Linked DNA regions of Homo sapiens. The protein of the gene in region 3 interacts with the protein of the main gene of each other region in a pairwise test. Each region holds a gene or a part of one and is shown on either strand. Other genes may lie near its edges. The genes, in order: PDE4DIP, ACTC1, MYBPC3 and CAPN1.

Region 1 (4,127 bases), on a different chromosome or scaffold from region 3:
TTGTGAAGTGATAGCTTATTTTAATCTTGGGAATCAAAAGCATGTAGCTAAGAACTTTTCCCAAGGAATATTTTAAAATTTTTATATCAATGTTTATGGAATGACATACTTTTTGATTCAAGGTTCTTAAATGTAGTTTTAGTTTTGATTCAATGTTATAGAACACTGTTTTTTAAACTGTGATCTGAAGCCCACATGTAATGGAATCACCTGGGGTGCTTATATTAAAAAAATGCAGATTCTAGGGCTCACACCAACTAAATCTCCTGGGATTGGAGACCAGGAGGTAGCTCCTATAATCTCCACAGCTGCTTCTCAGGCACACCAAGTTTAAGAACCATTCTTTCATATTTTCAGACTGGGGATTCTTACAAAATGACAAAGAAGGAAAACCTTAATCTTTTAAAGTTAGAGTTCAAGCATTAGACTATATGCTTCTTAAACACAGTTTGTCTTTCCCATTTTCTCTTTCCAGTTCTTTATACTGTCAAGGGATTGGTGCAGAAATGGGAAACAAAGCAGTGAAAGAAAAACTATTTATTTCTTTATACACATTTTGCTTTAACAATCACCAAAAAGACTTTCATTTTCTGTCACCCACCCTGTCCACCAGTTATGTTGGCCTTCAATATATGGCGTTAGCAACATATATAAATCTATATCATATATTTATACACACAAACACATTCTACCAGCACTGTGAAGACACAGACTAGGCTTTACTAGGCTTGGGGCCTCTCCCATGCCACTTAAAAATGAGCACAGGTTTGCTCTATGCAAGAATTTCAACAGAGTTGGTCTGGCCATCAGTCTGCAATTTCCCCGAGATAAGATAGGGTGACAAAATGGGACAGCAACTTTGAAGTGAGGTCAGTCCAATTTGGATATCATAGAAGAAAAGAAATAGGATGTGCTAGGTTAAGCCTGAGATGGTATCTGGGAAGTCACCACATTCATGATGTGAACTCAAAGAACACAGGTGCTACAGTGCAGACCAAGGCCCAGCCTGACTCGACCCAACAGGGTCAGGTGTGGATCTGTGAGTAGTGCTCACTGAGCCCCCGCCAGCAGTGTCCGGCAGGGCACCGCTGCTCAGTAGTGTGCTTTTAGAACCTGCCAGAGGAGCTCCAGCATTGGGACCACGTGCCCCTTTCATCGGAATCAGGGTCCTATATTCACTGAGTTTTCCATCTCAGGACAGCTGATGAGGCAAGAAATGTGCTCTTGCTAGTTCCCAAGCTGCTGGGGCTGTTGAGAGGCAGGATCACAAAACCTTCTGTGCAAACTACGCATCTTTTTCTTAGTGCTGGGCCAAGTGGACCTTGGCTAATCGTATTCCATAGCCGTCAGAAAGGCTTTCTGCCTTTCTCCCAGCTCCACCAGGATACATCTCTGACTCCCTCTTCTGGACCCTCCCGTGGACTTGGAGGAATGAGGCCCAGATGCTCCTCAGCAGATAGGTAGCTGCACAAAAGGGGGACAGGCCCACCTTTCCTGCTGTTTTAAGGACTTCTGGTGGCTGCGCTTCTTGCATGGTTCCTGGAAGGCAAGGGTCACAAGGCTGGAGTACATGGCAGAGCCCTTAGGGATTTCACCTGCAGACAAACATAAAACAAACCAAATCAGTGTATATTGCCAGGCCCTACTGATGGCTACCTGAAGCTGGAGTGAGAGCTACGTGGTGACCAAAGCCAGGAGCACGGTGAGAGCCAGTTAAGAGGATGAGCTAAGAGCATGCGCTGCAGTCTGGAGGAGCAACAGGTGCCCGAGGTTAGGGGGAGCCTCCCCACCTCCCTGTGTGCTGAGATCCCTGCTCCAATTCACTGCACACTGGGTGGCTGGATCCTACCACTCCCCCTTCAGGGGCCAGGTGACTCTCCAAATCACTTTGTCTCAGCAGAAAGAGGCCTTTGCCATGTCCACCCAAGAAAGAAGTGCTTAGCATGAAACATGCACATATAGAAACAGCCTGTTTGTAGGAAGAAGAGGACATTTTGCTGGGAAGCCCTCTGTTAAGTTTATGTCCAGTTGCCATAATGAGGGTGTGGAGGGGCCAAGTCCACAGGGACCTCAGAGCTCAACTAAGTCCAGTTCCATCTTTGACAGATGAGGGTGCAGCAGTCTCACAGAGACTAAGGGACAAGCCAAAGCCACACAGCAGTTAGTGATAAGCCAGGGATTAGAACCGAGGCCTCGGGTCCTTTCCAGTGATCTATGGGAGGTGGAGGGGAAAGCTTCCACACTGGAGAAAGCCAGTGGATACTAGAGATTTTTGGGTTACCTTTTAGTGGATACTAGAGACTTTTTGGATTACCTTTTCTGGGACAGGAATAAGGCTTTACAGAGGCAATCCTGTAAGTGCTGCTCTAAAGAGGCTCAGGAAAGAGAAGAATTATCAGAGAAAAACAAAAGGGAATTAGTGAAAAAATAAAAAAAAGAGCAAGTTAAACTGGCCCAAGTCATTTTCACACTATGGAGATCAACATTCTCTCAGGTTATGGATTAGAAACATTTCTAGGAATATGCTGAATTGCTTATGGCAAAGCTTTGATGTCCATGTTAAAAGGTTTAGTTTCTGATTTTTAACCATTTCATATACCTCAAGTTTTTCTTCAAAGCACTTCCTAGGGAATGATTAACACTTAGTGTTTTAAGTAAATGTAGATAATGTCTGGTACATATATAACATTTTTTCCCTGAAGGTTCAGTTGTTATTTATTAACAAATTCGCTTTTAGACCAATGAGACCCAACAGATCTCTTTTGTCATGTTACTTAAAGATATAGCAAAATCAAATTGCTGTTCTTAACCCGGGAATGTGCAGTGAAATCAGTTTATTAGGTTGCAAATTGCTTTTACTTTTTCATGAAGAGTAGAACACATAACTGGCCTCAAGATCCCTCTACTAGAAGCTCATTCAGAGGCAGACTCCCGAATGTCTAATGACTTCAAGAGTCAGCTGAATTGCATTTCTCCAGTCTCTGAACTTGGCCTCAAAGAAGAAAAATTGGAGTAAAAAGGAGAGATGATGACAATGTGAGAGTGAACCAAGATACAGGGGCAGGAGCTGACGGGGTGGGAGGGTGATGGGGACAGAAACTAGCAGGATGCTCACTGAGGACCTGTGATCTTGCAAGTGGACCCCAAGTCTTCTCCTGGAAGGCCAAAGCAGGCCAAGGGTCACCTACAAGATCTGCTAACGGATGGTGATGGGTGGGGGACAGGCTTGGTGCCTCTGACTGGTGCAGTAGTTTCCTTACCTCTAAGTTAGTCCTTGCCTTCTTTAAAACATCATGTGTTCTGGTTACTGAAACAACAAAAGAGCACCACAGAGTAGAAACCACCAGCAGAAATTAACCCTACTTGCTTAGCATGAGAATTCTAAAGCATTTATTTCTTTCTGGCTATTCAGCTTGGAGTCTCCTTCTATCCACCCCCTGTCCTCCCCTCCCTCTGCAGCCACAATTGCTCCTGGTACAGGAGGTTTGGGGACATCAAATCAGTCTCAACTCCCAACATCCCCAAGCCCCCCTGGTCACTGCTCATCTGCAGCACAAGTGGGGCATCGGGAAGACTGCCTGTTTCTTCCCCCATTCCCTCTCAGGGAACCTACGCTGGCTGACGATGAACTGCTCCATGCTCTCCTTCTGCTGGTTGGCGTTCTTCAGATGCTCAGTTGTGCTCTGAAGGAGTCGCTCCTGTTTGGATACTTTGGTTCTCAGTTCCAGAAGTTCCCTTTCTGTTGATTCTCCCTGGATAAGAGGAACAGACTCTTACTGACCAGGCAGAAGGCCTAAAGCACCCTGTGCTTTGTGGCTCTTTCCAATTCAAAGAAGGATTCTACAGTCTTCTCAACTCTCTTGAACTGGATTTCCTCCTTCACAGCCTCGGATACCTCCAGCTGAGGACAGTTCAGGATGAGGCCATTAGGCAGGAATAATGAGACTCTGGAATTCCCCATGCAGACTAGCACAGGCCTACACACCTGTAGCTTAAGAGAACCTCGCCTCAGGCTGGTATCAAACTCCCAACTCTGAAGAGGACCTTGCTTTAGTCCTGATATCAGTTCTGTCACTCTCCCTTCACAGGTAAGATTGAGAGTTCAGAAGTGTTATGCTGGGGTGAGA
Region 2 (7,293 bases), on a different chromosome or scaffold from region 3:
CCTCATAGATGGGGACATTGTGAGTTACACCATCCCCAGAGTCCAGAACAATGCCTGCCCGGGGAAGTAGACAAGAACAAGGTAAATTCCTGAGGACAACACCACTGCTCTAGCCACGGCAAAGCCCGCTTCCAATCTTGGCTAAGAGATGCTAGCAATGGGCATTGATCCAGATAAAATTAGATTCCTTACACACAAAGAATAAAAATGCGCATCAGGAATACTAAATCTGAAGCAAACTGCAGCTCATCTTTTTAACTATTATAGTAGAAAAAATTCCCGAGGACACTTTCAAATGACCATCTTTCTTGTCAGCCACGAGCACATTATGTAAGCACCCAAGGGTGTTTTTCTTTGCTCCTATTGAACTTACACGTTTCTCTCTCTTTTGACTCAGACCCTGTATGGAATGTATTCTCCTTGGGGATGCTTGCCCAGGTGATGTGATGGTTTAAACACATAACAATGACTGCTGCACTCCAAGCTGCTACACTGCGCTGAGCTTTAAATGAGGGAAGGACCTATCTCCACAAGCTATCAGCTCCAACAATAATTGTGCTCCGAAACTAACCTCAGGGCACTACTGTTAACTCTTTCTCTTAGCACAGACCTTGCTAGGGAATGGGAGGAAAGGGATTATCCCTTTTTCAACTGGGGGATCTGATTCACAGCAAGGTCGGTGACTTGGGAATGTGATTCATCAGTAACTGTCCCCAGAGCCCAGCATACCTGTGGTACGGCCAGAAGCATACAGGGATAGCACTGCCTGGATGGCCACGTACATGGCAGGGACATTGAAGGTCTCAAACATGATCTGAGTCATCTTCTCCCGGTTGGCCTTGGGGTTCAGCGGGGCCTCTGTGAGCAGGGTGGGGTGCTCCTCGGGAGCCACACGGAGCTCATTGTAGAAGGTGTGGTGCCAGATCTTCTCCATGTCGTCCCAGTTGGTGATGATACCATGCTCGATGGGATACTTCAGGGTCAGGATGCCTCTCTTGCTCTGGGCTTCATCACCTACGTAGGAGTCCTTCTGACCCATACCCACCATAACTCCCTATGAGAAGAAAAAATGAGAAAATCATGCTCTCACCATGTCAGGAATATAATCAGTGTCTTGTCCATTTATATCTAACTGCCCAAGTCAAGGAACATATTTAAATACCAGAAATAACAAGCAATACGATTTTACCCCAATTTAGAAGAATTATTTAAAAATCAATCTTCTACCTTCTCCCCACTCCCCCAAAGATGTATAATTCTATTGTTGAGAATATAACTCAGGAGAGAATGAAGCTATTCCACTGAAGAAGCAGAGCCTCACCTCACCTTAAAAATATCATATGCCTTCATTAAGTTATTAAGCTCATCACCCATGTCAACTGGAATATAGATGACTGCATTTTGGAATGACTGAATTAATGACACATTGTATTTCTCCTAAGAAAAAGATTTTGACATTCAAGTGAACACATAATGATGGGCTGATATGCCATCCTCACTCCAACAGTGAAATTCAGCCTGTCCAGAGCTGTTCTGGAGTCATTCACCAGCTCTGAGGACTAAGCTCTCCTGCTTGGCAGCCTGTCTGGCCAGGCATGTGACAAACCCAGAGAGCATGGCATGTCTTTTAACAAACGAGGTGGTATGTCACTATCACCATGGCACTTGCTGCCTCTGTCACGCCTGGCTTCTAAAAATGCAACAGCCAGGAAGGAGATAGATTGATTACACCTTTGGGGAACCCTGTAAACTGGCTGTGAACATGAGAGAGGAATGTGGATTTGGTCCTGGTTGGTTGGGAGAGGTGATATTGTTAGAAGTTTTAAACAGGACTGAAAAGAGAGGACAAGGAAGAAAATGAAGTGTATAAGGCAGAGAAGACACTAAAGACTAAAAGTCCAAAAGGCCATTAGTGGAGAGAAGCAGGTGGCTTTCACACCAGGGAGTGGGACCCTTTTAGAGGCGTGCCACTCAGGTGTACATTCCTCAGTATGTTGGGGTTTTGTGGAGTATTGCTTGCCTTGGCTTGGATTTGAAGTCAATCAGCCTTCTCTTAATTTGGCCTAAAGAGTTCATCGAACAAGAGGGTCAGGTGAGAGCCATTTCCTAGATCGCTGGACTGAAGGGGTCCCGAGTGGGACGGGGGGCTCGGCGGGAAGTTTACCTGGTGCCGCGGGCGGCCCACGATGGACGGGAAGACAGCGCGGGGCGCGTCATCGCCCGCAAAGCCGGCCTTCACCAGCCCAGAGCCGTTGTCGCACACCAGGGCGGTGGTCTCCTCGTCGTCACACATCTTGGCACAGCTTCAGGGGGTTCTGCAGGTTGAGGAGGGGAGGGCGGACCACGCTTAGCTGCCTGTGCAGCTGGCCTTCTCCGCACCCAGAGGACAGGACAGAGCAGAAGGGGGTTGTGGGGACTGGACAGGGGGTTGGGCGGGGAACACTCCTGCCACCTCCCTTCCCCTCGAATCATAAAAGGGAGGGAAGAAGCCGCGGAGGAGACTGGGGACAGAGAAGGGCAGAGGAATCCACCCAGGCTCCCTGGCCAGGAGTTCCAGCTAGGGTGCCAGGTGCAAGGAGGGACCCAAGAAACCCAGCCCCTTAGTCCTCCCCAGCCCTTTAACTTTCTTCCTTTTCACGAACTGGGAACTCGATCTCCAGCCCTGTCCATATCGCCATGCCTGTGCCCCAGATGGAGGGGAAAGCGCACGAGAGTAGGGACCCAAAAGCCCCTTGGGGAGCCACAAAATTCCCCTTCTTAGAGCCCCTGCGAGGTCCTGCGAGGACCAACGCCCAGGACAAAACAAGTTAGAACCAAATCAAAAAGTGTGGGCTTTAAAAAAAAAAAAAAAAAGGCAGTCGCAGAGCGGCAGGAGCTGGGGCCTTGGCTGAATGCGGGCCGGGCTGGCCAGGTGGCGGCGCGGGGCTGGCGTCCGGCGCGGCCCGCGGACCAGGCGAGGAGTGAACGCGGAGGGCCGGGCGCTGACTCACCGTCGGCGGGGCGGGTCGGCTCGGCTCCGGCGGCAGCGGGCTCTGGGTGGCTGGCTCCAGGAGGGCCGCTTTATAGAACGCTGATGGACAGGGTCAGTTGGAGCAGCCGGGGGCAGGGGTGGGGGGCCCGGTCTGCCACCTTGCCTTATTTGGTCCCCTTCGCACCCGCTAGGACTGCCGAGGCCATTCATGGAGCCAAGGGCAGGGGAGAGGATCAGCCAGGGAGCCCCCAGACCATGTAAGGAAGGGGAGGGGGCAGTCAGGGGGATGGCCAAATAGGGAGCTGGGGAGGGGCAGGCGCTGAAGGGTAGGGGGCAGGGGAAGACTAAGTGACGCCAGCCCACCCCTCCCCCTTTCTGGGGTGTGGGTGCTCCCTGGATGGTCTGTGGATTCGGTCCTCCGCAGCCCTGCCAGCCTTGGGGACAATAAGCCACATGCAGTGGGAAGGCTTGGCGCCCTGCCCTCTGCTGAGGGGTCCTGACAGCTGGGCCAGGGCAGCAGGGGAGCAACAGCGGCTTCTCATCTTCCAGGGCTGCCACCAGCACAAAGGACACCGCAGCAGCACATCTGAGTGGCTGCAAAAGGGGCACCCAGGACAGGGCACCCTTCTGGTCTAGTCCCCGCCAGCCTGAATGGCTTTACTCAGAGAGCTGGTGCTGGGCTCATCTAGGTCAGAAAGCTGAGATTAACCAAGGCCACCCGAGTTCCAACCCATGCATGGATCAGGGTCTGGCCAGGGAAGAGTCAGAAAAGGGTTTCTGTGAGAGCTTGGCCAAGTCTTGCTGGAGAAGGGACCAGGTTTACCCCAGCCCAGTTATTGGGTAGCCCTCATCCATGCTGCAGGGTTTTGCTCAAATTCAGACTCTGGTCTTCAGGCCAGAAAAGGATCCCCTGCTGCCAAAGTGAATAAAGGAACAAATGCCAAAAGTAGCTTGCCCACTTGATGGTGGGGAGATGAGCATCTTTAAACTGGGGGCAGAGGCCCTCACTCCAGGTGGAGACAAGACTGCAAAGGCAAATACTTTGATGGAGAACATAGCAACAACTTAAACTATAGGACTACACCAATCCTTGCTACTCAAAGTGCAGCCCATGGACAAGCAGTATTGTCATAACCTGGAAATGAGCTAGAAATGCAATCTCAAGAGCCATCCCAATCCGCTTTTCAGCAAGATCCTCATTTGCTTGGTATGTACATTAAAGTGTGAGAAGCATTGGCATAAATGACAGATATCATCTCCTCTGTGGAAAACAGATTTTGCAGGATCTTGAACTTTTGAGAAGGAAAAAGAAAAATGACATGAAATGAGGAGAGGGAGAAGGAAGAGGGAGATGTAAGAAGGACACAGATCACTAGTTTGCCCTGGGGTGCCCTGCATTCTCAGTTCTTGACTGGAGCTTTGATTTTTAATGCTTGTGTTTTTCCTCCAGTTCACACCAGTTAAAAATAGAAAACTGGGCACTGGCATCTCTCTCTAGAGTGGTCTTGGGCTGATATGCTGAGGAGGCCTGCTGATTAGATACTTGTCCCGACTGGGGAATGCTGGGCCCTCCCCTCTGAACTCCCCAACCATGTTTGGGTTGGTCTGGAGAAGAAACGCGATGGGCAGCTGTGTGGTGGGGTCGGGTAAGAGACCTGGCTGAGATTACTCTGTGCAGCACAGCAGGCATTTTACAGTGAAAATGTTTATTGACAGGATGCCAAGAGTAGAACTGCCTTGTCTCGTGAAAATATAGAAAAACCAAGGAAAAGGAGAAATGGGACTGGTGTCAGAGCCAGACAGAACTGGGCTCAAATGCTGCCTTTATCACTTACTAACTATCTGTTTGGTCTTGAGCAAGACACTTAACCTTCCCAAGCCCCAAGTTTTCCCTCTCAAAAGTGATACCATAACACTTGTTGCAGAAGTTATTGTGTATTGTAATAGTTAGAAACAAATGCTGTAAGTAATATGGAAGATACAAAGCAAATTGTATGTGTAATAATGATACTTTTGGAGGCAGTAGTAGCTCTGCCTTTTAAAGAATCAGGTTGATTTCATTCTTCATTGATTCAGCAAATCTTTGCAGGACAAGAACTGTGCTAGTTAAGGATTCAGTGATAAATAAAACAGAGCAGGACTCATCCTCCGTGGCAATTACAGAAAAGTCAGACAGCTATGGCACAAACTGGGAGGGAAGAAGAGGTATCAGCAGGATAGTCACAAAAAGGGAATGGAGGTCTGAAAGAGTTGCCGAGAAAGCCTTCCCCAGGATGTGTTGTTCGTTTTTAAAAGTAGAGCAGAACTGAAGTTTATGAACATTTGTGTGAGAGAAAGAGTTTCTGCATGGGAGTGGCTGGTGAGAGACTCCCACTATGACTGCTATAGGTGCAAAGACTCTCAGGAATGGAAAACCATGATTATTGACCTTTGTCCTTCGCACAGGCTTCGGGGATCTAGGAGGCCACTTCCAGCCCCCTCATCTCAGGACCATTGGCTCTAGTGGGAGGCCAGTAGAACAGTGCAGGACACAACAGCAGTTTTGTGAAACAATATTCACCCTTAAAATGTTTGAAAAATGTGTTTCCTATTCCGCTCAATTTCATTGCCTAACACTCAAAACAGTGTATTTTCATATGTGTTATGTGTGTAGCAAGAACGAATGCTTATTTCTTAAAAATTTATGATTGTTTGATATTTACTATTTGTATTACCACTCAATTTCCACATTTTATTTATTTTATTTTTATGTATTTGTTTGTTTGCTTCAGACAGGGTCTCCCTCTGTTACCCAGGTATAATCAGGTGCGGTGGTATAATCAGGGCTCACTGCAGCCTCAACCTCCCAGGCTCAGGTGATCCTCCCACCTTAGCCGATTCTCCCACCTTAGCTGATCCTCCCATCTCAGCCTCCCAAACAGCTGGGACTGCAGGCACATGCCAACACACCCCGCTAATTTTTGTATTTTTTGAAGAGACGGGGTTTCACTATGTTGCCTAAGCTGGTCTCAAGCTCCTGGGCTCAACTGATCTGCCAGCCTCAGCTTCCCAAAGTGCTGGGATTACAGGCATGAGCCACCAAGCCTGGCCTTGATTTCCACATTTTAAAAACTTTGAACCCTATTTTATATATTTTAAAATGTAAACCAACAGGAAAGTAAGATTTCATGACTGAGTTTTATTTAAACTACTTTTTACAGATCCACTTAATTTGAAAATTGAGATTGGCTTTTTAAGCATATAAAAATGACATCTCAAAAAAAATTACAAAACAAAGAAGAAAAAAATGACATCTCCTCTTTGGTACATTCTAGATTTTTTTTTAATTATGGTAAAATATGCATATATCAAATTTACTATCTTAACCATTTAGGAATACAGAGTTCAAAAGTGTTCAGTGCATTCACATTGTTGTGCAGTCTCCGAGTGTTATTTTTTTTATTGCTAATTGTGACTAAATTGTGCTTCCTGCAGTTTGAGAAAGACCAGTTTATATCCTATGAGGTAGGGAACCACTGAGCCTTTTTTGTCTGAGGTCACACAGGTGAGCAAATGGTGGAGTGACAATTCAAACTCAGGCACCTGATTTTAAGCCCTATTCCCAACCACCACCAAAAATACCTTCACATATACTTGGTCTGCTATTTCTCAGAATGTGATGCTAGAACCGCCTCCAGCCAAATTACCTAGACTGCCTCATAGAAATTCAGATTCCTGGGTTCCACCCTGGAAGATTGAATCTGCATTTTAAATGAGCCCTCACTGTTCTCCCCTAGGTATGTTTCTCTGCAGAGTGAAAAACTTAGCCGCACTGCTTGGCTGTTCTCTCTGAAGCCCACAGAGCTTTGCTGGATGCTGCCCAAGCTGCCAGTGCTGGCTGGAGTCCAGGTTGGCTGACCTTGTAGATCCCAGTGGGATGGCAGAGCTGGGGCGGGTCCCCAGGGCTCTTGAGGGCCAGTGAAGCCCTTTTCGGCGTGGACTGGCCATGAGGGAGACGTGCAGGGCAAACTGAAGGAACAGAAGGTGGGACAGTTCCCACTGCCCTTGCCTCGGGGGAAGTCTGTTTCATCCACCATCTGCTGGGATCTGGAAGGGAGCGGCCCAGCCTCCTCCCCGGCACTGGGGGATTAGCAGTCACTTATCTCAGCTGTTCCTCCGTTCGGAGGTGTCACAGTATTTACAGAGAAGCCAGAAACAGACAGAGCCACACTTAATTCCTCCCCATGAGCCCTCCCCATCACCTCCTGTCCCTCCTGCATTCTGTGTGCCGGGGGAGGGAGAGCCTCGGTTTAGATCAGACCGGGGGGAGGATCTAGCCTTCC
Region 3 (4,835 bases):
AATGCAGAGTAAAGCTGACTGTAACACTTCTTTGAGCAGTGCGAAATCAGCAACTACATTTTAAAAACATATTTAAGGCCAGGCGCGATGGCTTACGCCTGTAATCCCAGCACTTTGGGAGGCCAAGGTGGGCGGATCACCTGAGGTCGGGAGTTCGAGACCAGTCTGACCAACGTGGAGAAACCCCGTCTCTACTAAAAATACAAAATTAGCCGGGTGTGGTGGTGGGCACCTGTGATCCCAGCTACGCGGGAGGCTGAGGCAGGAGAATCACTTGAACTCGGGAGGCAGAAGTTGCGGTGAGCCAAGATCATGCCATTGCACTCCAGCCTGGGAGACAAGAGCGAAACTCCATCTCAAAAATAAATAAACAAATAAAAATTTAAAAAAACATATTTAAATCCTGGAGATTCCTATCAGAGGAGTGGGCAGTGGGAGTGGGGTGTCAGTGGTGACACAGCCTGTGGCCTTGCCTCCCCCTCCCCACCCCCAGGCTCAGAGTGGGTGGCTGCCCTGCAGGGGCTGACAGAGCACACATCGATACTGGTGAAGGACCTGCCCACGGGGGCCCGGCTGCTTTTCCGAGTGCGGGCACACAATATGGCAGGGCCTGGAGCCCCTGTTACCACCACGGAGCCGGTGACAGTGCAGGAGATCCTGCGTGAGTGCCCCTTTGTGCAGTCACAAGACCCGCCATTGACACCCCAGGCCCTTGGTGTCCAGTGGAGGTGGGGACAGTTGGGGAGGCCCAGAATGCTCTGCCCAGAACGCTGGGCAGAGACAGGAGGGGTTGGAGCCATCGTCCATGCGCTAGGCCTAGGGAAAAAGTGCAGAGAGGGTGGCCAGGCACAGTGGCTCAAGCCTGTAATCCCAGCACTTTAGGAGGCCAAGGCAGGCAGATCACTTGAGGTCAGGAGTTTGAGACCAGCCTGGCCAACATAGTGAAACCCTGTCTCTACTAAAAATACAAAAACTAGCCAGGTGTGGTGGCGCGTGCCTGTAGTCCCTCAACTACTTGGGAGGCTGAGGCAGAAGAATCGCTTGGACCCGGGAGGTGGCAGTTGCAATGAGCTGAGATCACACTATTGCACTCCAGTCTGGGTGACAGAGTGAGACAACGTCTCAAAAAAAAAAAAAGTGCAGAAAGGGCTCTCTTGGTGTATGTCAGTCCCTTAGTTCTGGAACAGGGAAAGTAAAAGCCACAGTACCCAAGCTCTCTTCCAGGAGTGTCTCAGCTCCAACAGGTAAATATTGTCTATGTAGTCAGATTGGTCCCTCTGGGATCCACTTCCCATTCCTTTGTTCCTTGTCCCAACAAAGGGTCCATCTTTTGTAAGGATTGGTTCTCAAAGCTGGAACGAGGCAGCAAACTCAGGTGGTAACAACACAGGGCATAGGGTGTCAAAGCCCAGGCTTACACCCTGGTCTATGACTTACTAGCTGTGTGACTTCAGTCAAGTTGCTTACCCTCTCTGATCCCTGCCTTTTGAAGTGGTGAGGCTCGGGGAAGCCAGCTGGGCTTGGGCAGCCTGGAGTTGCTGTGTTAGCAGGAGCTAAAGGAGGCGCAGGGCCCAGCAGGCAGCTTTTTTCTTAGCTGCAGCTCTCTGGGCCTTGTCTCAAGGGAGGTTGGAGCTGTGGAGCCCCTCAGAGCTGTGGCGGGCCCTCACTTAGCTACCCACTCTATACCCACAGAACGGCCACGGCTTCAGCTGCCCAGGCACCTGCGCCAGACCATTCAGAAGAAGGTCGGGGAGCCTGTGAACCTTCTCATCCCTTTCCAGGTGGGACTGGCCCCCTTCCCTGTCCCCCAGGGGAGAGAGGCTATAGTGTGTTGTTCCCATCCAGTGGACTGATGTCTCAGGGCTGGCCTGATCTGAGGTACCAGAGGCTGGGGTGGCGGCCGGCCCTTGGAGTGATCCAGGTTCAGGGTTAAGCTTTTCCTCCCCTCAGGGCAAGCCCCGGCCTCAGGTGACCTGGACCAAAGAGGGGCAGCCCCTGGCAGGCGAGGAGGTGAGCATCCGCAACAGCCCCACAGACACCATCCTGTTCATCCGGGCCGCTCGCCGCGTGCATTCAGGCACTTACCAGGTGACGGTGCGCATTGAGAACATGGAGGACAAGGCCACGCTGGTGCTGCAGGTTGTTGGTGCGTGGCCAAGGCCTCCTTGAGCCCCCTTGTTTCCCTTCCCTGGGCTGGGCTGCTGGGGCCAAGGGTGGGGCCAGGGGACCCAACCCACAGCTCACATTTTCCAGTCCACTGCCCCAGCAGGCCTGGCCCTGGTTGGCAGGGGTGGGGTGGTCCCTGGAGCCAGTGACCCCCTGCTCACTGTCAGGAGGCGTGGTGACCCAACTGGGTCTGTCTCCCGCAGACAAGCCAAGTCCTCCCCAGGATCTCCGGGTGACTGACGCCTGGGGTCTTAATGTGGCTCTGGAGTGGAAGCCACCCCAGGATGTCGGCAACACGGAGCTCTGGGGGTACACAGTGCAGAAAGCCGACAAGAAGACCATGGTGAGCCCAGGGTCTGGGGTCCCCACGTGCACCCTGCCTAGGCCCGGCAGACCCAGGCCGCAGCTACCCTTCACTGTCCTCACCGTGGACCCCTCACCCTCCCTCTGCTGATCTGAATCCCTCCATAGTAGGGGTGGAGATGCCAAGGGCACCCAGGAGAGGCTCTCGGCATCAGGAAGGGCCTGGCCCAGAGATGCCTCCCCTCCCTCCCTGCCCCCAGGAGTGGTTCACCGTCTTGGAGCATTACCGCCGCACCCACTGCGTGGTGCCAGAGCTCATCATTGGCAATGGCTACTACTTCCGCGTCTTCAGCCAGAATATGGTTGGCTTTAGTGACAGAGCGGCCACCACCAAGGAGCCCGTCTTTATCCCCAGACCAGGTGCTGTACCCTCATTCTTCCAACCAGGGGCTGGGGCAGGGAGGCTGTGGGAACAGGGAGAGGGGCCTAGCTTTGTGTGGCCCTCTCGGTACCAAGTCCTGTCACCAACAGGCATCACCTATGAGCCACCCAACTATAAGGCCCTGGACTTCTCCGAGGCCCCAAGCTTCACCCAGCCCCTGGTGAACCGCTCGGTCATCGCGGGCTACACTGCTATGCTCTGCTGTGCTGTCCGGGGTAGCCCCAAGGTAGGGAACTTTAGGCGCTGGTCCAGGCCGACCAGGAGGCAGGGCTCACAGGCCCCGACGTTGAGCAGTCCTCTCCCCAGCCTGTCTCCCCTGCTTTCTCTCCACCTTGGGGTGTATGGACCGGGTTCCTCCCCCTGGGCAGGGCCATGGTACTCACTCTTGGTTCCATGTTTGTTTCCAGCCTTGGGCATAGTCAGGGACTCTCGTGGGACCCCCCGAGTAGAAACACAGATGTGTCTCCCTGGGTCCCTGCCAGGTCCCCTCTCAGCCTGGATGGCTTCCCTCCCTCTCTTTACCTTATTTATAGCCCAAGATTTCCTGGTTCAAGAATGGCCTGGACCTGGGAGAAGACGCCCGCTTCCGCATGTTCAGCAAGCAGGGAGTGTTGACTCTGGAGATTAGAAAGCCCTGCCCCTTTGACGGGGGCATCTATGTCTGCAGGGCCACCAACTTACAGGGCGAGGCACGGTGTGAGTGCCGCCTGGAGGTGCGAGGTGAGGAGCCCTCGGGGCCAGGGCCTGGGAGATGGGAAGAGCGGGCGGCAGTGGGGACCCTGGGCTTTGCTCCGTTGTCCTCGGCCAAGCACCTGCCCTGGCTGCAAGGGCACGGACCCTGCCACGCCCAGATGGGCAATAGCTTCCAGAAGGCTGGGAGGACACAGTGACATGGCCTCCTCTTCTGCAGTGCCTCAGTGACCAGGCTGGCTCCTGGGGATGGCCAGGTATGTACCACCCGACACCCAGGGCACAAGTCAGTGGCTGAGCCCTGGCCCTTGGTCCTGGGGCAGCCATCAGTAAATGGGAGGCTGTAGGGGCCCTCCATTCACTCGTAAGATAACCTGTGTTGCAGGTACAACCGGATGCCAGCCCCGTGCCAGGAGCCTGGAGGGAAGTTGGGGAAACCCCTCCCTACTGTTGGATGTATGTGTGACAAGTGTGTCTCCTGTGCTGCGATGGGGGATCAGCAGGGCAGTTGTCGGGCAGTCCTGAGTGGGTGTTGCACAGACTGGTCCACAGGGCTCCTGAAGGAAGCCCCTGGATCTTTGGGGTAAAAGGAGGGTGGCCTCAAGAAACAATGTCTGGGGACAGGCCTTTCTGGCCTGCTATGTCTTCCCAATGTTTATTGGGCAATAAAAGATAAGTGCAGTCACAGAGAACTCACTCTTCTCAATTTCGGTGTGCCTGTTTTCATAAAAATGCACAGGGGATGGCCAGGTGCGGTGGCTCATGCCTGTTATCCCAGCACTTTGGGAGGCGGAGGCGGGCCGATCACCTGAGGTCAGGAGATCAAGACCAGCCTGGCCAACATGGTGAAACCCCGTCTCTACTAAAAATACAAAAATTAGCTGGGCAAGGTGGCGCGCCTATAATCCCAGCTATTTGGAAGGCTGAGGCAGGAGAATCACCTGAACCCAGGAGGTAGAGTTTGAGGTGGGCCGAGATCATGCCACTGCACTTCAGCCTGGGTGATGGAGTGAGACCATGTCTCAAAAAAAAAAAAAGAAAAAAGCCCAGGGACATTGATCTTCACAGCAAAGTGAGAGCAGATACTGTTTTTTGTTTTGTTTTCCCGATGATTAAACCAGGCCCAGAGTGGTTTCTGAGTTCATAAAACATTAACGCTAGAAGGAACCTGTCTTCCCCTACAGCATTCACTCTTCAGATGATGAAACTGAGCTGTGACAGCGGAAAGTGCATT
Region 4 (7,038 bases), about 18 Mb from region 3:
TCAGAGGCGATAACTTTTCCAGGATCATGTAGCTAGTATGTCTCGAGCATACATGTACATATCAAGTATACACATGTCTATATGTGGTATGCATGTATTAGTATACAGCAAATATGCAGGTATCTAGTATACATTGTACAGGCAAAGGAAAGCATCCCCTTAGCCCTCTGAAGGTTCACTGAAAAATCAACTCACAAAAGGAGGTTAGTAGGAGAAATGGCATACAAATTGATTAGCCTGCAGCGTGGGGTCGGGAACCACAGAGTGTTCACCCCAGCCCCACAATGGGTACAGAAGCCTATATACCATCCTGAGGTTACAGGAAGAATGGGGGCTCGAACATGGCCAAAACCAGTTTCTGGTGGTAAATCAGGTTATAGTGGCAAGACAGACTATGGAAGGGGGAGAAAAGGGGGCCTGGGTAGCAAAGGCAGTCTTGTTATGTAGATGAAACCTCACAGGTAGCAGCCCTCAGAGGGAATAGATGGTAATTGTTTCGTTCAGACCTTTAAAGGGTGTCAGGCTCTCAGTCTGACAAGGGAAGGCCTTAGAGAAAGCCTGGCTACATCAATGCAGATTTTCTCTACAGATGCAAATCTCCCCCACAAAAGACAGTATTACAGGGCTACTTCTGTTTGCAGACCCTCTGAACAGCTATCTCAAAATATGTTGAAGAAGTATATTTCAGGGTGAAATACTTTGATTTCCTTCAATACCTAGATACATGTATCTAGTATATCTGTAGCATACATGTATCTAGAGGTACACATGCATCTAGTATGTATCTAGTATATGTGATTTAGTATACATGCATCTACTATGTATCTGGTATACCTGACCTAGTATACATCTAGTATGTATCTAATTTACATGATTTAGTCTATGTGTATCTAGTATGTATCTGGGATGTAGAATCCTGCATCTAGGAAGGTAGGGGTAAGGATGGAGCTCAGGTCCGGGGGATTCCAAAGCAGGTACTCACCGTGCCCCTCCCCCACAGCTGTGGCAATTTGGGGAGTGGGTGGACGTGGTCGTGGATGACCTGCTGCCCATCAAGGACGGGAAGCTAGTGTTCGTGCACTCTGCCGAAGGCAACGAGTTCTGGAGCGCCCTGCTTGAGAAGGCCTATGCCAAGTGAGTAGCGGCTGAGGGGGCAACTCCAGCTTCCAGCTCCCCCTAGGGGTGGGGGCTCATGACTGTCTTCTCAGAGGGTCCTGCTTGATGCCAGAGTGCTGACCTGGAGCTGCCCACAGGGTAAATGGCAGCTACGAGGCCCTGTCAGGGGGCAGCACCTCAGAGGGCTTTGAGGACTTCACAGGCGGGGTTACCGAGTGGTACGAGTTGCGCAAGGCTCCCAGTGACCTCTACCAGATCATCCTCAAGGCGCTGGAGCGGGGCTCCCTGCTGGGCTGCTCCATAGACGTGAGTGTGCCCGGCCCCGATGCTTTGGTACCCTGGAACCCTGGTATCCTGACCTGTCACATTTTCTAAAATCCCCACCCAGGCTCCGCTCCAGACCCTGTCCTGCACTTAAGCTTCATCTCTGGATGCATACCCTGCCTCATCCATCACTTCCACCCCCCATGCCTGGTGTCGCTCCTGTCCTCACCTACCCACTCCTCCCCCAAAACTTCACACCTCAGCTCTTTCCTGTGCTTGTTTTCCCGTCTACCATGCTGTTTCCCTCATTCCTGTCATCTCAATCCATGCCATCCTCTGTCCAGTTCACCAGCCTCAGATTTCATCTCCTGGTCTCAGTTCCCACCCATCCCTAGCCTCAATCCCACACTCACTCCATTCCCACCCTTCCCTGCTCCTCTGTTCCCACACTCAACTCCGCTCCCCAGTCCTCAACGCCAGACTTGACCCCAGTATCACTGCCATCCGCAGCTCTAACCCCAGCTCCCATTCCCATTTCTAACTGACTCTTCTGTCCTCACGTCCTTCTCCGTGAGGCCCACTGAGGGCTGTGTGGCTCTGGTGGGCTGTGCACGGCTGTGTGTGTGCACATGCATGTTCGCACAGGTTCTGGTCAGCCCTGGCCAGTAGCAGTGTCAGCGGAGTGCCTGGGCTCCCCTGTCCCAGTGGCAGCATTGGTGGGGTACCCAGGCTACCCCTCTCCAAAAGAGCAGCATCTATATGTGGGGGTGTCTATAGGTGGGATCGGGGTCCCTGCTTGCTTCTCCTAGCAACTGTTGTATGTGCAAGTGGGAACGTCCAAGACCCTGAGTGCTGGGGGCTCATCTGATAGGGCGGGGGGACCTAGCCACTGACCACAGTGTGTGCCTCTTTCTGCAGATCTCCAGCGTTCTAGACATGGAGGCCATCACTTTCAAGAAGTTGGTGAAGGGCCATGCCTACTCTGTGACCGGGGCCAAGCAGGTACTGCCCTGGGTGGGGCCTTCCCTGAAGGGCGGTTCCTGCCCCCTGGCCTGTCCTTGCCTCTCTGGCACCTGACCAGGGCTGTGGAAGGTGCTGGCTCCTCCTTTCCCCTCCTGCAGCACCTTATCTCTCTTCTGGGGACACCCATCTGAGATGCCTATCATGTCCTGCCCTGACTGACTGTAGTTCATGTGTGCAGCTGCCTGCCTGGGCTGTGAATTCCAAGAGGACAGGCTTCATCTGGGTGCTGAGCAGGGCTTGGAGAGGATGAGGGTATGGGAGGCGGAGTGTTAAAGTGCGTGCATGGGCCAGGTGCACTGGCTCACACCTGTAATCCCAACACTTTGGGAGGCTGAGGTGGGCAGATCACCTGAGGTCAGGAGTTCGAGACCAGCCTGGCCAACATGGTGAAACTCTGTCTCTACTAAAAATACAAAAACTACCTGGGTGTGGTGGCAGGTGCCTGTAATTCCAGCTATTTGGGAGGCTGAGGCAAGAGAATTGAATTGCTTGAACCCAGGAGGCGGAGGTTGCAGTGAGCTGAGATCGCACCACTGCACTCCAGCCTGGGTGACAGAGCAAGACTCTGTCTCAAAAAAGAAAAAAAAAAAAAGTGCCTGCTGGAAGCTAGCACTGACAGGAGCTCTGGCAAATAGGTGAACTACCGAGGCCAGGTGGTGAGCCTGATCCGGATGCGGAACCCCTGGGGCGAGGTGGAGTGGACGGGAGCCTGGAGCGACAGGTGAGGGGCAGTGGGCACTGTCTGGAGTGCCTTGGGGAAACTGTTAGGTGCCCCGACATTTCTGCTCGGGACTCTACCAGGCCAGGCTGGACTCAGGATTGAGCAGAGGGGCCCATCTTCGCGCGACTGGGTCTGGGGGACTGCTCTGACAAAGCTCAGGCCGTGCGGGCCCCTGTGCCCAGCCGTCGGGTGTGTGCAGGGCATCAGACTGGCCCTGATGAGACCACCCCCTAGAAGCGGAACCTTGGCGCTTGACCTTGAGGAGGCCACCTGGGCTGGGCCGGGGGAAGACAGGCCAGGGTAGACAGGCCCCAGGGACAGAGGCCAGGCAGGTCAGTGCCCACCAGCCCTGGCAGAGCCCTGCTCCTCACAGCTCCTCAGAGTGGAACAACGTGGACCCATATGAACGGGACCAGCTCCGGGTCAAGATGGAGGACGGGGAGTTCTGGTGAGCGCCCCCTCCCCTTCTACCCCACCTCTCCACCCCTACACATCAGCTCTGTGCCCTGACGGGCTGTGCCTCACCTGTGTACCTCCCACCTCAGGATGTCATTCCGAGACTTCATGCGGGAGTTCACCCGCCTGGAGATCTGCAACCTCACACCCGACGCCCTCAAGAGCCGGACCATCCGCAAATGGAACACCACACTCTACGAAGGCACCTGGCGGCGGGGGAGCACCGCGGGGGGCTGCCGAAACTACCCAGGTGCACAGGGGCGGGCTCTGGGTCTTGCTGCTTCCTGGCTTAGGGGCTCCAGAAGGCACGTCATCTTACTGAGCCTCCGTTTCCTCACTTGCAAGATATAGGCTGATCTCTTGAATTTGCTTTGAGGAGTAAAATATTAAATGTCCTAGTAAATTTTAAAGAGGCATGCTTGACTCACCGTCTTGGGGCCTGAGCCCAGGGTGCTCATGAGGGGCAAAGATCTTGTGGCCATCCAGCCACCTGCCTGTCACTCCTTTCCTGGGCCCTTCCCTCCTGCCTTCGCTTTTTTTTTTCTGAGACAGAGTCTCACTCTGTTGCCCAGGCTGGAGTGCAGTAGCGTGGCCTTGGCTGACTACAACCTCCATCTCCCGGATTCAAGCAATTCTCCTGCCTTAGCCTCCCGAGTAGCTGGGATTACAGGCACCTACCATACCCAGCTAATTTTTGTATTTTTAGTAGAGGCAGGGTTTCTCCATGTTGGCCAGGCTGGTCTCGATCTCCTGACCTCAGGTGATCCGACCACCTTGGCCTCCCAAAGTGCTGGGATTACAGGCGTGCGCCACTGTGCCAGGTCCCTTCTTGCCTTCTCTTGCCACCTTTCCCTGGGCTTCTAGATCCATGTGGCTGATGTGGGCCACAGCCTGGCCTCTCAGTTCCTTGTCACTCTCACTGCAGCACGCTTTTTCTCTACCTTAGCTCAGCCCCCACCATGAGGGCACCAGAGCTGCCTTGTCTTGCAAACACCCGCTCTCTGACCTCCACCTTCGACTCTTTCCACTCCCTTAGTCTTCAACCCTTCGACCAAGCCAGTCCGTTGAACCCATCACTTGCGTACCATCCTGCCTCTCCCATCTTGCCTTCTCTCCTTACCTAGGTTAGAGCTATCATTTTAATCTTGTTCCTACAAACACTTTCAGTTCCCTGGCCCCTGTCTCCCATCATCTGGCACAAAACCCATCTCCACTGGCTTGGGAACCATTGAGTGTGGCAGGAGAGAAATCACATAACCGATGCCATATTTTCCCTGTAAATTCTTAGCCACAAATCTCAAATGAGCATTTTCCATAATCCCCAGCAATTCCACTACTGGTTAGTAACATTTCCACTCTCACCTCGATATCTCCCCACTGTTACTCTCACCTTCGGGCCTGGCCTTGCACTTCACTGAAAAGATAGACTTCATCCTGCAGGACACCTTGTGTTCCCACCTCCAAATCCCCCAGCCTTCTGCACCTGTGCCTGTGTCCTCATCGCCTCCCCACCTGCGACAGTGGCAGAACAGTCCCTGTTCATGGGGACCCCCACGTCTGCTCCAGATCCCATTCTCCCTCACCTCTGAAAGCATTTGCTCCTTCATCTGTCACCTCTCTCTCCAGTGTCATTACGGAGAGTCCTCTGTCTTAACACAAAGCAACCCTCTCGACCCCACTTCCCTGTTCATTTCTCCGCCCTCCTTCAAAGCACAATTTATCAGGAATTACCATACTCCCTATTTCCTTTCTCACTTCTGCTTCATTGCTTAACCCTTCCCAGTCCAGCTTCATCCCTACCATGCTGCTAAAACCACCCTCTCAAAGGTCACTTAAGCTTTGGCCTTGCCAGATCCGCCGCTGCTCTGTCCTCCTGTGCTGCATCCTCAGCACGGCTCCCTGCCCTCTGTTTTGAAGCATTCTTCTCCCTTGTAGGGATCCAATTTCAGTCTTTCCCCAAATAGATAACCACCGTTCCCTGTACCATTTATTGAGAAATACATCATCTCGTCTCTCCCCAGCAGCACTAGCGCCCTCAAGTAGTCCTGAGGTATGTGTTGGTCTGTTTCTGGACTCACCATTCTGTCCCTGGGTCTATCCCTCTGCCGATAACACATTGAATCCATTACTACAGATGTGTAAGTCCTGCTGTTGGACAGGGCAAATTCCTTCTTCAAGAGTCTCTTAGCTGTTTTTTTTGTTGTTGGTTTTTTTTGTTTTTGTTTTTGTTTTTTGAGACGGAGTCTTGCTCTGTTGCCCAGGCTGGAGTGCAGTGGCGCGATCTCGGCTCACTGCAACCTCTGCCTCCTGGGTTCAGATGATGCTTCTGCCTCAACCTCCTGAGTAGCTGTGATTACAGGTGCCCGCCACCACATCCAGCTAATGTTTGTATTTTTAGTAGAGACGGGGTTTCACCATGTTGGCCAGGCTGGTTTCAAACTCAAGTGATCCACCTGGCTTAGCCTCCCAAATTGCTGGGATTACAGGCGTGAGCCACTGCATCTGTCTTAGCTGTTCTTGACCTCTGTTTTTCCAAATGAATTTTAGAATCAGTTTACCAAGTCTTTTGAAAAACCATTTTGAGATTTTAATTTGGAATTACATGAAACCTATAGACCAATTTGGGGAGACTTGACATTTTTATAATTTTAAGTCTTATCCAAGGATATGGTGTATCTCTTCATTTATTTTGGCCTTTAATGTCTTTCAATAGAATGTTGTATTTTTTATCATAAAGAATTTATACATCTCTTGAGATTTAATGCTAGGTACACTATAATTTTGTTTCTATTATAAATAGTATGTTCTTTAAAATTACATCTCCCAAGTGATCTTGTTGCTCATACGATAACATGCATTTGACCTTTTAGATGTAGTTTTTATATCCAGCAAATTTTTTAAAACTAATTAATCTTACTGATTCATCTGTATGTATTTTTTGGCACGATCTTAGCTCACTACAACTTCTGCTTCCCTGGTTCAAGTGATTCTCGTGCCTCAGCTTCCCGAGTAGCTGGGATTACAGGCGTGCGGCACCACACCTGGCTAATTTTTGTATTTTTATTAGAGACAGGGTTTCACCATGTTGGCCAGGGTGGTCTCGAACTCCTGACCTCAGGTGATCTGCCTGCCTTGGCCTCCCAAAGTGCTGGGATTACAGTGAGCCACTGCGTCCAGCCCTTTTTGGTTTTCTAATTAGGAATATAGCATCTGCAAATAATGACAGATTGTTTCTTCTTTTCTAATTCTTACAACTTTTGTTACTTTTTCTTGTCTAATATGCTGCCTAGAACTGTAGAGCTTCCTGCTCTTGTTCCTCCCTTTTTTTTATTCTTATTTTTAGGAGCAACCCTATTAACTAAGCCTCACTCTTAAAGGGGAAGTTTTCACCACTAAGTACCTTTCTAATCTAGGTTTTTTGTGGATACCTTTTATCAGACTAATGAAGTTTAATATTG

The links.
Region 1: the proteins of MYBPC3 (region 3) and PDE4DIP interact in binary tests that used the Homo sapiens proteins (3 or more experiments, as listed by UniProt).
Region 2: the proteins of MYBPC3 (region 3) and ACTC1 interact in a two-hybrid assay, tested with the Homo sapiens proteins (2 studies listed by IntAct).
Region 4: the proteins of MYBPC3 (region 3) and CAPN1 interact in a two-hybrid assay, tested with the Homo sapiens proteins (one study listed by BioGRID).

What each region holds. Positions count from the first base shown.
Region 1 is NC_000001.11:149,029,412-149,033,538, reverse strand, and holds the end of PDE4DIP (myomegalin), read right to left. Parts: intron 3,753-4,127; coding exon 3,614-3,752; intron 3,308-3,613; coding exon 3,261-3,307; intron 2,367-3,260; coding exon of another isoform or gene 2,315-2,366; intron 1,596-2,314; coding exon 1,554-1,595; coding exon of another isoform or gene 1,450-1,553; 3' UTR 523-1,449; downstream 1-522. UniProt on the Homo sapiens protein: Functions as an anchor sequestering components of the cAMP-dependent pathway to Golgi and/or centrosomes.
Region 2 is NC_000015.10:34,792,516-34,799,808, forward strand, and holds the start of ACTC1 (actin, alpha cardiac muscle 1), read right to left. Parts: upstream 3,035-7,293; 5' UTR 2,991-3,034; exon of another isoform or gene 2,628-2,990; intron 2,394-2,627; exon of another isoform or gene 2,316-2,393; 5' UTR 2,294-2,315; coding exon 2,165-2,293; intron 1,603-2,164; exon of another isoform or gene 1,327-1,602; intron 1,055-1,326; coding exon 730-1,054; intron 55-729; coding exon 1-54. UniProt on the Homo sapiens protein: Actins are highly conserved proteins that are involved in various types of cell motility and are ubiquitously expressed in all eukaryotic cells.
Region 3 is NC_000011.10:47,330,868-47,335,702, reverse strand, and holds the end of MYBPC3 (myosin-binding protein C, cardiac-type), read left to right. Parts: intron 1-493; coding exon 494-661; intron 662-1,692; coding exon 1,693-1,781; intron 1,782-1,950; coding exon 1,951-2,146; intron 2,147-2,369; coding exon 2,370-2,509; intron 2,510-2,729; coding exon 2,730-2,889; intron 2,890-3,000; coding exon 3,001-3,137; intron 3,138-3,444; coding exon 3,445-3,631; intron 3,632-3,821; coding exon 3,822-3,832; 3' UTR 3,833-3,858; intron 3,859-3,986; 3' UTR 3,987-4,297; downstream 4,298-4,835. UniProt on the Homo sapiens protein: Thick filament-associated protein located in the crossbridge region of vertebrate striated muscle a bands. In vitro it binds MHC, F-actin and native thin filaments, and modifies the activity of actin-activated myosin ATPase.
Region 4 is NC_000011.10:65,184,917-65,191,954, forward strand, and holds part of CAPN1 (calpain-1 catalytic subunit), read left to right. Parts: intron 1-1,000; coding exon 1,001-1,134; intron 1,135-1,253; coding exon 1,254-1,422; intron 1,423-2,298; coding exon 2,299-2,382; intron 2,383-3,038; coding exon 3,039-3,124; intron 3,125-3,497; coding exon 3,498-3,572; intron 3,573-3,669; coding exon 3,670-3,830; intron 3,831-7,038. UniProt on the Homo sapiens protein: Calcium-regulated non-lysosomal thiol-protease which catalyzes limited proteolysis of substrates involved in cytoskeletal remodeling and signal transduction. Proteolytically cleaves CTBP1 at 'Asn-375', 'Gly-387' and 'His-409'.